2 linked regions of the Homo sapiens genome follow. The protein of the gene in region 2 purifies or fractionates together with the protein of the main gene of each other region. This does not show direct contact. Each region holds a gene or a part of one and is shown on either strand. Other genes may lie near its edges.

What was found. The genes of interacting proteins can lie anywhere in the genome.
Region 1: the proteins of OBP2A (region 2) and MOXD1 purify together in Homo sapiens (affinity purification with mass spectrometry, with the first as the bait; one large-scale study listed by BioGRID). This does not show direct contact.

The regions. Positions count from the first base shown.
Region 1 is NC_000006.12:132,394,500-132,399,183, forward strand, and holds part of MOXD1 (DBH-like monooxygenase protein 1 precursor), read right to left. Parts: intron 1-4,684.
Region 2 is NC_000009.12:135,544,207-135,549,593, forward strand, and holds the start of OBP2A (odorant-binding protein 2a isoform alpha precursor), read left to right. Parts: upstream 1-1,919; 5' UTR 1,920-1,974; coding exon 1,975-2,046; intron 2,047-2,571; coding exon 2,572-2,705; intron 2,706-2,971; coding exon 2,972-3,042; intron 3,043-3,664; coding exon 3,665-3,775; intron 3,776-4,436; coding exon of another isoform or gene 4,437-4,501; coding exon 4,502-4,603; intron 4,604-5,101; coding exon 5,102-5,124; coding exon of another isoform or gene 5,125-5,125; intron 5,126-5,387. UniProt on the Homo sapiens protein: Binds and transports small hydrophobic volatile molecules with a higher affinity for aldehydes and large fatty acids, including undecanal, palmitic acid, efficient aldehydes, benzenic aldehydes, heterocyclic aldehydes and aliphatic acids.

The sequences.
Region 1 (4,684 bases), on a different chromosome or scaffold from region 2:
TTCAAAATATTGATTTTAAAGAAGCTCAGTAAGACACAACAGAATACTGAAAAATAATGCAAAGAAACCAGAAAAGCAATTCAGGAAATAAATGAGAAATTTACCAAAGAGATAGATGTCATAAAAAAAGAGACCAAACAGAAATTCTACAACTGAAGAATTCATTGAATTAAATAAAAAATACATTCTAAAGTTTCAACAACAGACTAGATGAAGCAAAAGAATCTCAGAACTTGAAGAGAGGTATTTTGAAATAACTCAGACAAAAATAAATTAAAAGGATAAAAAAAGAATGAGCAAAGCCTATATAACATCATAAAGTGACCAAGTATTTGAATTTAGGATCTGAGAAGGTGAAGAGAAAATGAAGGAGTTAGAAAACCTATTTAACAAAACAATAGATAAAAACTTCCCAAGTCTTGCAAAAAACTTTAGATATCCAGAAACAAGAGGCTCAAAGTTCTCCATATAGATACAATTCAAAAAGTTCTTCTGCTCAGCACATTATAGTCAAAATATCAGAGGTGAAAGACACAGAGAAAACTCAAAAAAGCAAGAGAAAAGCATCAAGTCACTTATAAAGGTACGTCTGTCAGACTAGACTAACAGCAGAAACCTTATAGACTAGGAAAGAATGGGCTGATATATTCAAGATGCTGAAAGGAAAAAAAACTGCCAACCAAGGATACCATACCCAGAAAAGTTATTCTTTATAAAATGAAAGAGAAATGAAGTCTTTCCCAGACAAGCAAAAGCTGAGGGAATTTATCACCACTAGACCAGATCTATAAGAAATGCCAAGGGAGTCCTACACCCAAAAGTGAAAGAACAATATCTAATATCATTAAAACACATGAAATATAAAAACTACTAGAGCAAACATACAAAGAAGGAAAAGACTAGAAGGTTACCACTACAGAAAAACCACAAAACCACAATAATAAAAAATAAGAGAGTAAGAAAGGAACAGAGGATACACAAAACAACTAGAAATCAGTTAATAAAATAAGAAGAATAAGCTCTCACATATCAATAATAACCCGGAATGTAAACAAATTAAAACTTTCACTTAAAAATACAGACTGGCTGAATGGGTTAAAAAACATGACCTGACTATACACTGCTTACCATACTCATCTCACCTGTAAAGCCATATACTAACTGAAATTAAAGGATGGGAAAAGAACTTCCATGCAAACAAAAATCAAAAGTGAGCATGAGTGGCTATGCTTATATCAGGTGAAACATACCTTAAGTATAAAACACTAAAAAGTGACAAAGAATGTCATTATGTAATAATAAAGGGATCAACTCAGCAAGAGCTGCATATATATTTAGAAATACAACAATTCTAAATACATATGCACTCAACACCAAAACACCCAGATCTATAAAGCAATTATTATTAGATCTAAAGGGAGTGATAGACTCCAACACAGTAATAGGAACGTTAATAGCCCACTCTCAGCATTAGACAGGTCATCTAAACAGAAAATTAACAAAGAAACATTGGATTTAAATTACACATTAGACTAAATGGACCTAACAGACATTTACAGAACATTTCATCCAACAGCTACAGAATATACATTCCTCTCATCAGCACATGAAACATTCCTTAGGACAGCCCATATGTGAGGACACAAAACAAGTCTCAACAAATTTTAAAAAATCGAAATCATATCAAGTATCTTCTCAGACCACAATGAAATAAAACTGGAAACCAATAACAAGAGGAACTTTGGAAACTGCACAAATACATGAAAATTAAACAACATACTCCTGAATGACCAATGGGTCAAGAAAGAAATTAAAGAGGAAAAAAAAATTCTGAAATAAAATGGAAACATAACATATCAAAACCTATAGGGTACAGTAAAAGCAGTGCTAACAGGAAAGTTTATAGCAACAAACACCTACATCAAAAAGTAGAAAGATTTCAAATAAATGATCTAATAATTCACCTAAAAAAAACTAGAAGAACAAGAAAAACCACACCCAAAATTAGTAGGAGAAAAGAAATAATAAAGATCAGAGCAACACTAAACAAAACAGAGACAAAAAAAATACAAAGGATCAATAAAAGGAAGTTAGTTTTTTGAAAAGATTAACAAACTTGATAAACAACTTGCTAGAATAACCAAGAAAAAAAGAGAATACCCACATAAAATCAAAAATGAAAAAATAGACAAGTATAACTGATATCAAAGAAATGCAACAGATTATCAGGGACTATTATGAACAACAATACACTCACAAACTAGAAAACCTAGAGGAAATAGATAAATTCCTTGACTCATACAACCTACCAAGACTGAATCAAGAAGAACTAAAAAACCTGAATAGACCAACAATCAGTAATGAGATTGAATCAGTAATAAAAAGTCTCCCCCAACATAGAAAGTCCAAGACTTGGGGCTTCACTGCTGAATTCCCATGTGACTGTCTTCTTACGTGATGTTCAGATAGAGTCTACATTCCCTCTTGAATCTAGTGGGCTTGTGACCACAGTGAAAGACTAAGTCATAAAAGGCTGTACAGTTGCCACCTGGCCTCTTGGTTCCCTCTTGGGACCTGCCACCATGCTGTGACAAAGTCAAGCAGCCACACAGAGAGGCTATGATCCTACCACAGCACCAGGCAAGGTCCCTGCCAAGAGCCAACATCAACTGCCAGCCATAACTTCAAGGAAACAAGGCTTCATATTCTTCCAACCACCCACTTTGGAGTTGTCCCCACCAAATTTCAGACTTGTGAGCAAAAGAAATTTGTCATTGCGTTAAGCTACTCTGTATGGAGATGGTTTGTTACCAAGAATAGACAGCCAGAACAATGGGCAAAGCCCCCAATACTGGACCCATTTCCTGGCATAGAATAGAACTGGCCTAAAAAGAAATGGGACTTGCTTCTCTGCCTTTCATGAATTTTCATTATTTGGGTTGATTCTTTATTAACATTAGACTTTCTCTCTGAGTCCCAGATTAGGCTGTCTATAAGATATATCCCAGCTGAAATTGTGTGTGAGTGTGTGTGAATGCACACTATATGATGGTTGAATTGTTGCCAGTATTTAGTAATTAGATTTTTATTTAAACACACACACACACACTCACAGAGAGAGAGAGAGAGAGAGAGACAGAAAGAAAGAAAGAAAGAAAGAAAGAAAGAAAGAAAGAAAGAAAGAAAGAAAGAAAGAAAGAAAAAGAAAGAGTAAAGAGAATCTAAATTTTGTCTTCTCTCAAAATAAAAGAACAAACAGAAGATCTGGCAATACTGAATTTACATTCCTTTTTAACAGTAATTCACTCACAAAACCCCCAGTTCCCTCAGTGCCATCTCCTCTCTGTTGCATTACATCCTGCCTGTTCCATTCAAGCTCTCATCACTCTTTTTTCTCATTTTTTAATTTATATAAATGTATGCGTTACAAGTGCAGATTCTTTACACACAGAGATTGCATAGTGGTGAAGTCAGGGCTTTTAGTGTATCCATAACCCAAATAACATACATTGTAACAAATAAGTAATTTCTATTCCTCCACACCTTCCCACTCCTTCACCCTTTTGAGTCTCTATTGTCTATCATTCCACACTCCACATCCTTGTGTACACATTATTTATCTCCCACTTATAAGTGAGAACATGCAGTATTTATCTTTCTGCATCTAGCTTGTTTCACTTAAGTTAATGGCCTCCAGTCACTCTTAGATTTATTTCCTGACATCTATAGACATTTGGACTTGTGACATCTATTAAGCCAATGATTCTCTACCTGATCGATAAAAATTTACACTTACATAGTTCTCAAGGAGTTAACACCCTTTTGAAAGAAGAGTTTAATATAATTAGGAAAATAAAAGTCAGAAAAATTTTTAAAAACTAAAGTTTTAGTTTAAAATTAAATTTAAAAGGATAAAATAAAATACATGCCAAAAAGCCACATGATGAGGTGACTAGGATAGCAACTTAGGTTATTATCATACACCCTGGTGTAATTGTCCAACTCTTAGTGGCTGCTGTGCATTTATTGATGCCCCGGGAGCCAATGTTTTTTGTGTCATTGTTCTATATAAATGTTGTTCTCGCCGGGAGCAAAATTACACAAAACATGAAGTCTACTAATAGAATCAAATATGCTACATTTAAGAATCCTATTTATGGCCTGGCGTGGTGGCTCACGCCTGTAATCCCAGCACTTTAGGAGGCCGAGGCAGGTGGATCACCTGAGGTCAGGAGTTTGAGACCAGCCTGGCCAGCCTGGTGAAACCCGGTCCCTACTAAAATACAAAAATCAGCCTGGCATGGTGACAGGCGCCTGTAATCCCAGCTACTCGGGAGGCTGAGGCACGAGAATCACTTGAACCTGAGAGGTGAGGTTGCAGTGAGCCGAGATTGCACCAGTGCAATCTAGCCTGGGCAATAAAGAGAGACTTTGTCAAAAAAAAAAAAAAAAAAAAGAGAATCCTATTCACTTTTTGGTATAGTTGCTGAAAATACTCTTCTCACACTAGTGTATGAAGAACCTTAAATAAATAGTTTCTAGAGAGGAGACTGAATTTCGAGCGTTGGAGAATGGAATCATTCAGCCTGAATAATAAAACTGAAATTGATACATTTATTTCATTTATATTATTTGGTGTATTTCATCTTATTAAACAGATTTTAAGTTAACTGTCTTTCCATTT
Region 2 (5,387 bases):
CCTGACGGTGTCTGCAGCAGTTGAACCCAACCAGCATCTAAAAGAACACAGTTGGTGAACGAGACTGGGACACAGGGCAAGATGGGTGGACAATGGGAGGCTCCTGGAGAGCACCCGTACCAGCGAGCATAGAATTCATGGGGGTGACCTGTTCCCTGAAGCATCTGCGCGTGTTGTTCCAGCATTTTCTTCAAGGATTGAGCCAGCAGCACCAGTGTCATACGGTGCTTAAATCAATGATTCACAACCAACCAATGAAATACAAGGTGCCGGCTGGGCGCGGTGGCTCACGCCTGTAATCCCAGCACTTTGGGAGGCCGAGGCGGGCGGATCACAAGGTCAGGAGATCGAGACCATCCCGGCTAAAACGGTGAAACCCCGTCTCTACTAAAAATACAAAAAAAAATTAGCCGGGCGTAGTGGCGGGCGCCTGTAGTCCCAGCTACTTGGGAGGCTGAGGCAGGAGAATGGCGTGAACCCGGGAGGCGGAGCTTGCAGTGAGCCGAGATCCCGCCACTGCACTCCAGCCTGGGCGACAGAGCGAGATTCCGTCTCAAAAAAAAAAAAAAAAAAAAAAAAAGAAATACAAGGTGCCTGGGGTACAGGCAACAAAAATGGGGAACGGAGAAATCTTCCCGTTGAGGTAGAGACTCCAGCCTGTTTGCTCATCTCTGGTCCTGAAGAGCCCAGTCCCCGCCCTAAGGATGGGGTTTCTGCTCGGCAGCACTTGCCGTGAGAGGGGTGAGGCACTGGGTCACGCCAGCCCTTTCTTTATAGCCCCCAGGGTTTATTAGAGTGTGCATTAGTATTATTTAGCAAGCACTTGAGGGTGTCTGATCTTGGGCCAGAGAGGCACAAAGATTGTGTGGGCCCAGCACCTGCCTGCAGAGCGTGGGTCAGCCTTGGGTCCCAGGGCAGATGACGCAGGCCCGGGAACTACAGGGTCCAGGAGGGAGAAGGCAAAGTTCTGGCTCAGGTTGGCTGGGGATGAGGCCAGCGGAGCCAGGTGCCCAAGGGAGCTCAGCCACAAACTCTGAGCACAGGCTGGCAGGTGGCTCTTGATGCTCATGCCACCCATTTATCTAAAGGGATGAGATTCAAGGCCTGTCCCGGTGGCTGGGGGCCGTCGAAGCTGACGAGAGAGGGGATGTAGAGTGAATGTATATTCCACTCTACCACTTGTATTTAACAGGGAGATGGATGATGAACACGTGCAGGAAGAAACAGGCAGGACAATCCAGAGAGATCACGTGTTCTGAGGACAGCACAGCCAGGCTCCGGTACGGAGTGAAGCGGGGTGGGGCAGGCGGCGGGGTCCCTCATATGGCCCGAGGAGGCCGTATATATACTGACCTTGAACCACACAATAGTGCCCTTCTCTGCCCCTAGGAAGCTCGAGTGCAGGGTCCAGGTGGGGAAAATCAATGCAGAGTGGGTCCCAGAGTGGGCGGAAGCTTGGGCTCTAGGGCGTGCGGGACTCAGCTGGCAGCAGCCCCACGTCTCTATGGTTCTAAAGCCCAGTCCATTTCTGCTCAGCAGGGAGATGGCCAGTTCCCCAGAGGACTTGCCCAGGGTCCCAGCCGTGGCCCTGGGAGGGCTCAGGGGTGAGGGAGGAAGAATTCCGAGCCGTGGGCCCTCCCTCTGTGGCTCGGGGTGCAGACGTGCACTACCCTGCCCTGTCCTCTGGAGTCCTCCGGGCTCATCCAAGTGGGCGCATTTGGATGCAAACCCTGGACAGCATCGTGTGTCTTTTCTTCTCTGGCTGGCACTGAATTGCTGTTCACCAGATGCCAGCAATGAGGACACTCCCCCTCCCGGATGCAGGACTGGTTGCCACCATGGGGAGGGGTGCACCGTGCCACGTGCTCCCAGGACACTGGCCAGGGGGCTATAAAGAACATCTCGAGAGGAGCCAGCACAGCCTTGTTCAGACGCCCAGTGACCTGCCGAGGTCGGCAGCACAGAGCTCTGGAGATGAAGACCCTGTTCCTGGGTGTCACGCTCGGCCTGGCCGCTGCCCTGTCCTTCACCCTGGAGGAGGAGGATGTGAGCTGGGTTGGCGTGGGCGGATGGAGGAGCCAGGTGGACTCCTGGGCAGGGGGCAGTGCCAGGGGCCCTGCTTTAGGAGGTGTCACTGAAGGCTGGCTTCTGACCCCGTGCTCCCAGCCTGGGGTGGTGGTGGAGGGGTCCTATTGTTCCTCCAGCAGACACGGCCCCCCGAGGCCCAGGGCCGGAGCAGGCTCGGCTCAGGGGTTCCTGCTGCACTGACGCCTGAAGCCCGAAGGTCTCGCAGGGTTGGGCCCTGTGGAGGGAGGGCTCACCTGGTGCTGGGGCCCGGGGGTCCATGGGGTGCAGACATGCCCTCCTTCCACTGGGGGCTGGGAGCCCTGAGCAGGGGGCTGGCTCTAACTCACTCCAGCTGAGCTCTAACTAAGGTGCAGGAACCCAGCCTGCCTTTAGGGGTGGCAGCCGGGCACCATGGGTGTCTGGTTATAGCTGCAGGCCTGAGTGCCAGGGTCAGAGTAGAATCTGGGCCACCCATGGTGGGCTCACGGCCTTGGCCTGCTCCAGATCACAGGGACCTGGTACGTGAAGGCCATGGTGGTCGATAAGGACTTTCCGGAGGACAGGAGGCCCAGGAAGGTGTCCCCAGTGAAGGTGACAGCCCTGGGCGGTGGGAACTTGGAAGCCACGTTCACCTTCATGTGAGTGTTGCCCACTGCAGGGCCCCTCAGGCCACTTTCGCTCCCCGCCCCAGACCCACCTGGTGCCCATTGCCCCATCCACATTTCGGGTGTTGGGAAGAGTCACCCCCTGCCTTGGAGGGAAACAGCCAGGACATCCTGAAGCTCGGTGGGGTGGGGGGGCAGTGGAATTTTCAGGTTGCCGGGTCAGGGCCATGCACCAGGTGAGCTGAGGATGGGCCAGGTGTGTCCTGGGAGCCGCTGCCCGAGTGTCTCCTGTTTTCCAGGAGGGAGGATCGGTGCATCCAGAAGAAAATCCTGATGCGGAAGACGGAGGAGCCTGGCAAATTCAGCGCCTGTGAGCCCCTCCCCGACCCCCCACTCCCCATGCCCAACCCCGGATGCACCAGCCCCACTGCAGGTGGAGAGTGCCCAGGCCACACTTCTGCCAGGGTCCCAGCCCTGCCCACCTCCAAGGAGGGGCTGGCCTCTCCTTCCTGGGGGGCTGGTGGCCCTGACATCAGACACCAGGTGTGACAGGCTTGTCCACAGTAGAGATGGACCAGATCAAGCCTGCCCTCTGGGAGGCCCTAGCCATTGACACATTGAGGAATCCGAGTGTTAGGGACCAGGAGGCCGAGGGTTAGGGATGGGAAGCCAAGGCTGAGGGTTTGGGATCAGGAATCCGAGGGTTAGGGACAGGGAAGTGGGGCAGGAGCAGCTGCTGGAGCTGGGAAGGCCGGACTCTAGTCCTGGACGTGCTCTGGCCTTGTGGCTCCATTACTTGCATTGGGACCTTCCGAGAGGAGGCTCCTGCCTCCGTGTCCGGGTCCATGCTGTGCGGAGCAGCCAGGCCTGGCTCAGGCTGTCCAGGGCACCTGGGTGACCACTGAAACATTCCTGAGTGTTTCTTCGTGTGGTCCTGAGTGCTCTCTCCGGGAATGAGGGCACTGAAGACCCATCTTCTCTGTCATCTACAGATGGGGGCAGGAAGCTCATATACCTGCAGGAGCTGCCCGGGACGGACGACTACGTCTTTTACTGCAAAGACCAGCGCCGTGGGGGCCTGCGCTACATGGGAAAGCTTGTGGGTGAGGGGCCCGCTGGGGCCTGCATGTCCTGCCCCATGGTCTCTGCCTCCAGAAGCCAGTGGAACCACCATCATCACGCCCTGGCACGGGGGGAAAAGGAAGCCCCCTGCGCCGGCCTTCGTGTGCTAGGCACCAAGCGCTGCCCTGGATGGCTGGTCCAAGTTCCTGAAGTGGGAGTGGGGTGGGCCAGGCAGGGACAGACACGGCCCTCGGTGACATGAACCTGCCAAGGGCCGCTTGTGGGGTCTCAGGTGTAGGGGCCTCACCTTAAGGGGGAGGTAGCATCTTAACAGAGCTCTTCATGGGGCAGGGACTCTCCAGGGCGGCAGGGCAGCCAGTGCCTCTGGGACACAAGGTCCCTCCAGGTGAGGGTTATGACCCTGCAGAGTGGCTTTGGGAGCTGCCCAGGTCCCCCTGGGGTTGCTGAGTGGCTTGGACCCTGCCACTGTCCCCTTTCCTGGGGACCTCTCACCTGGGCGGTGGCCGTCTCCTCTGTCCCCAGTCCCACCCCTGAGCTCTTGTCCATTCTCAGGCCTCCTCTCCCCCTTGCCTGGTGCTGGACAGTTGCCATCTCTTCTGTCCCCAGCCCCACCCCTGAGCTCTGATCCACTCTCGGGCCTCTCCCCCGTCCTGATGCTGGGCCGTGGTCGTCTCCTTTTAGCATCTGCTCCCTGCAGGGCCGTGCCGCTGTCCCCACCTTGGCTCACCTGGCCACCTCACCTGCAGGTAGGAATCCTAATACCAACCTGGAGGCCCTGGAAGAATTTAAGAAATTGGTGCAGCACAAGGGACTCTCGGAGGAGGACATTTTCATGCCCCTGCAGACGGGTGAGGACGGCTGTGCCCAGTACCCCGTGTTCCCCTGTGTCTCTGTGTGATCTCCAGTGTCCCATGACCCCCATGTCCTCCCATGTCCCCCGCATTCCCCGTGTGCCCCGAGTCTCCTCGCAGGGGCTCTGGGCCCTGCTTAGCATCCTCGTCGTTGGAGGGTCTGCACTCTGGGCTGCGATGCGGTCTGGGGCTCCGCGCTCTGGGCTGCGATGGGGTCTGGGGCTCCGCGCTCTGGGCTGCGATGGGGTCTGGGGCTCCGCGCTCTGGGCTGCGATGGGGTCTGGGGCTCCGCGCTCTGGGCTGCGATGGGGTCTGGGGCTCCGCGCTCTGGGCTGCGATGGGGTCTGGGGCTCCGCGCTCTGGGCTGCGATGGGGTCTGGGGCTCCGCGCTCTGGGCTGCGATGGGGTCTGGGGCTCTGAGCCCTGGGCTGCGATGGGGTCTGGGCCCTGGTCTAGGGCGCCTTCTAATCCCTGGGTTTTTCTTGGTCTCTGCAGGAAGCTGCGTTCTCGAACACTAGGGTGAGTGAGCCTTTAGGAGGGCACTGGACAAGCCCAGAGTCCTGGGTTCCCGGGGTTCGAGGGTACATCTGCTCTGGCCCTTCCCATCCCACACAGCCAGGGAGACCCCCCCAGGGTCAGGCACGAGGTTGGCACCTCAGAGTCTGCCCACCCAAAATTCCTGGGACATTCGGGAAGTCCTTTGTTTTACCATTCCTGCACCTGCCAGCCCGAGTGAGGGTCCTCCTCGGCCTTTCCACAGCGAGGCCTCCCTCCGGCTCCC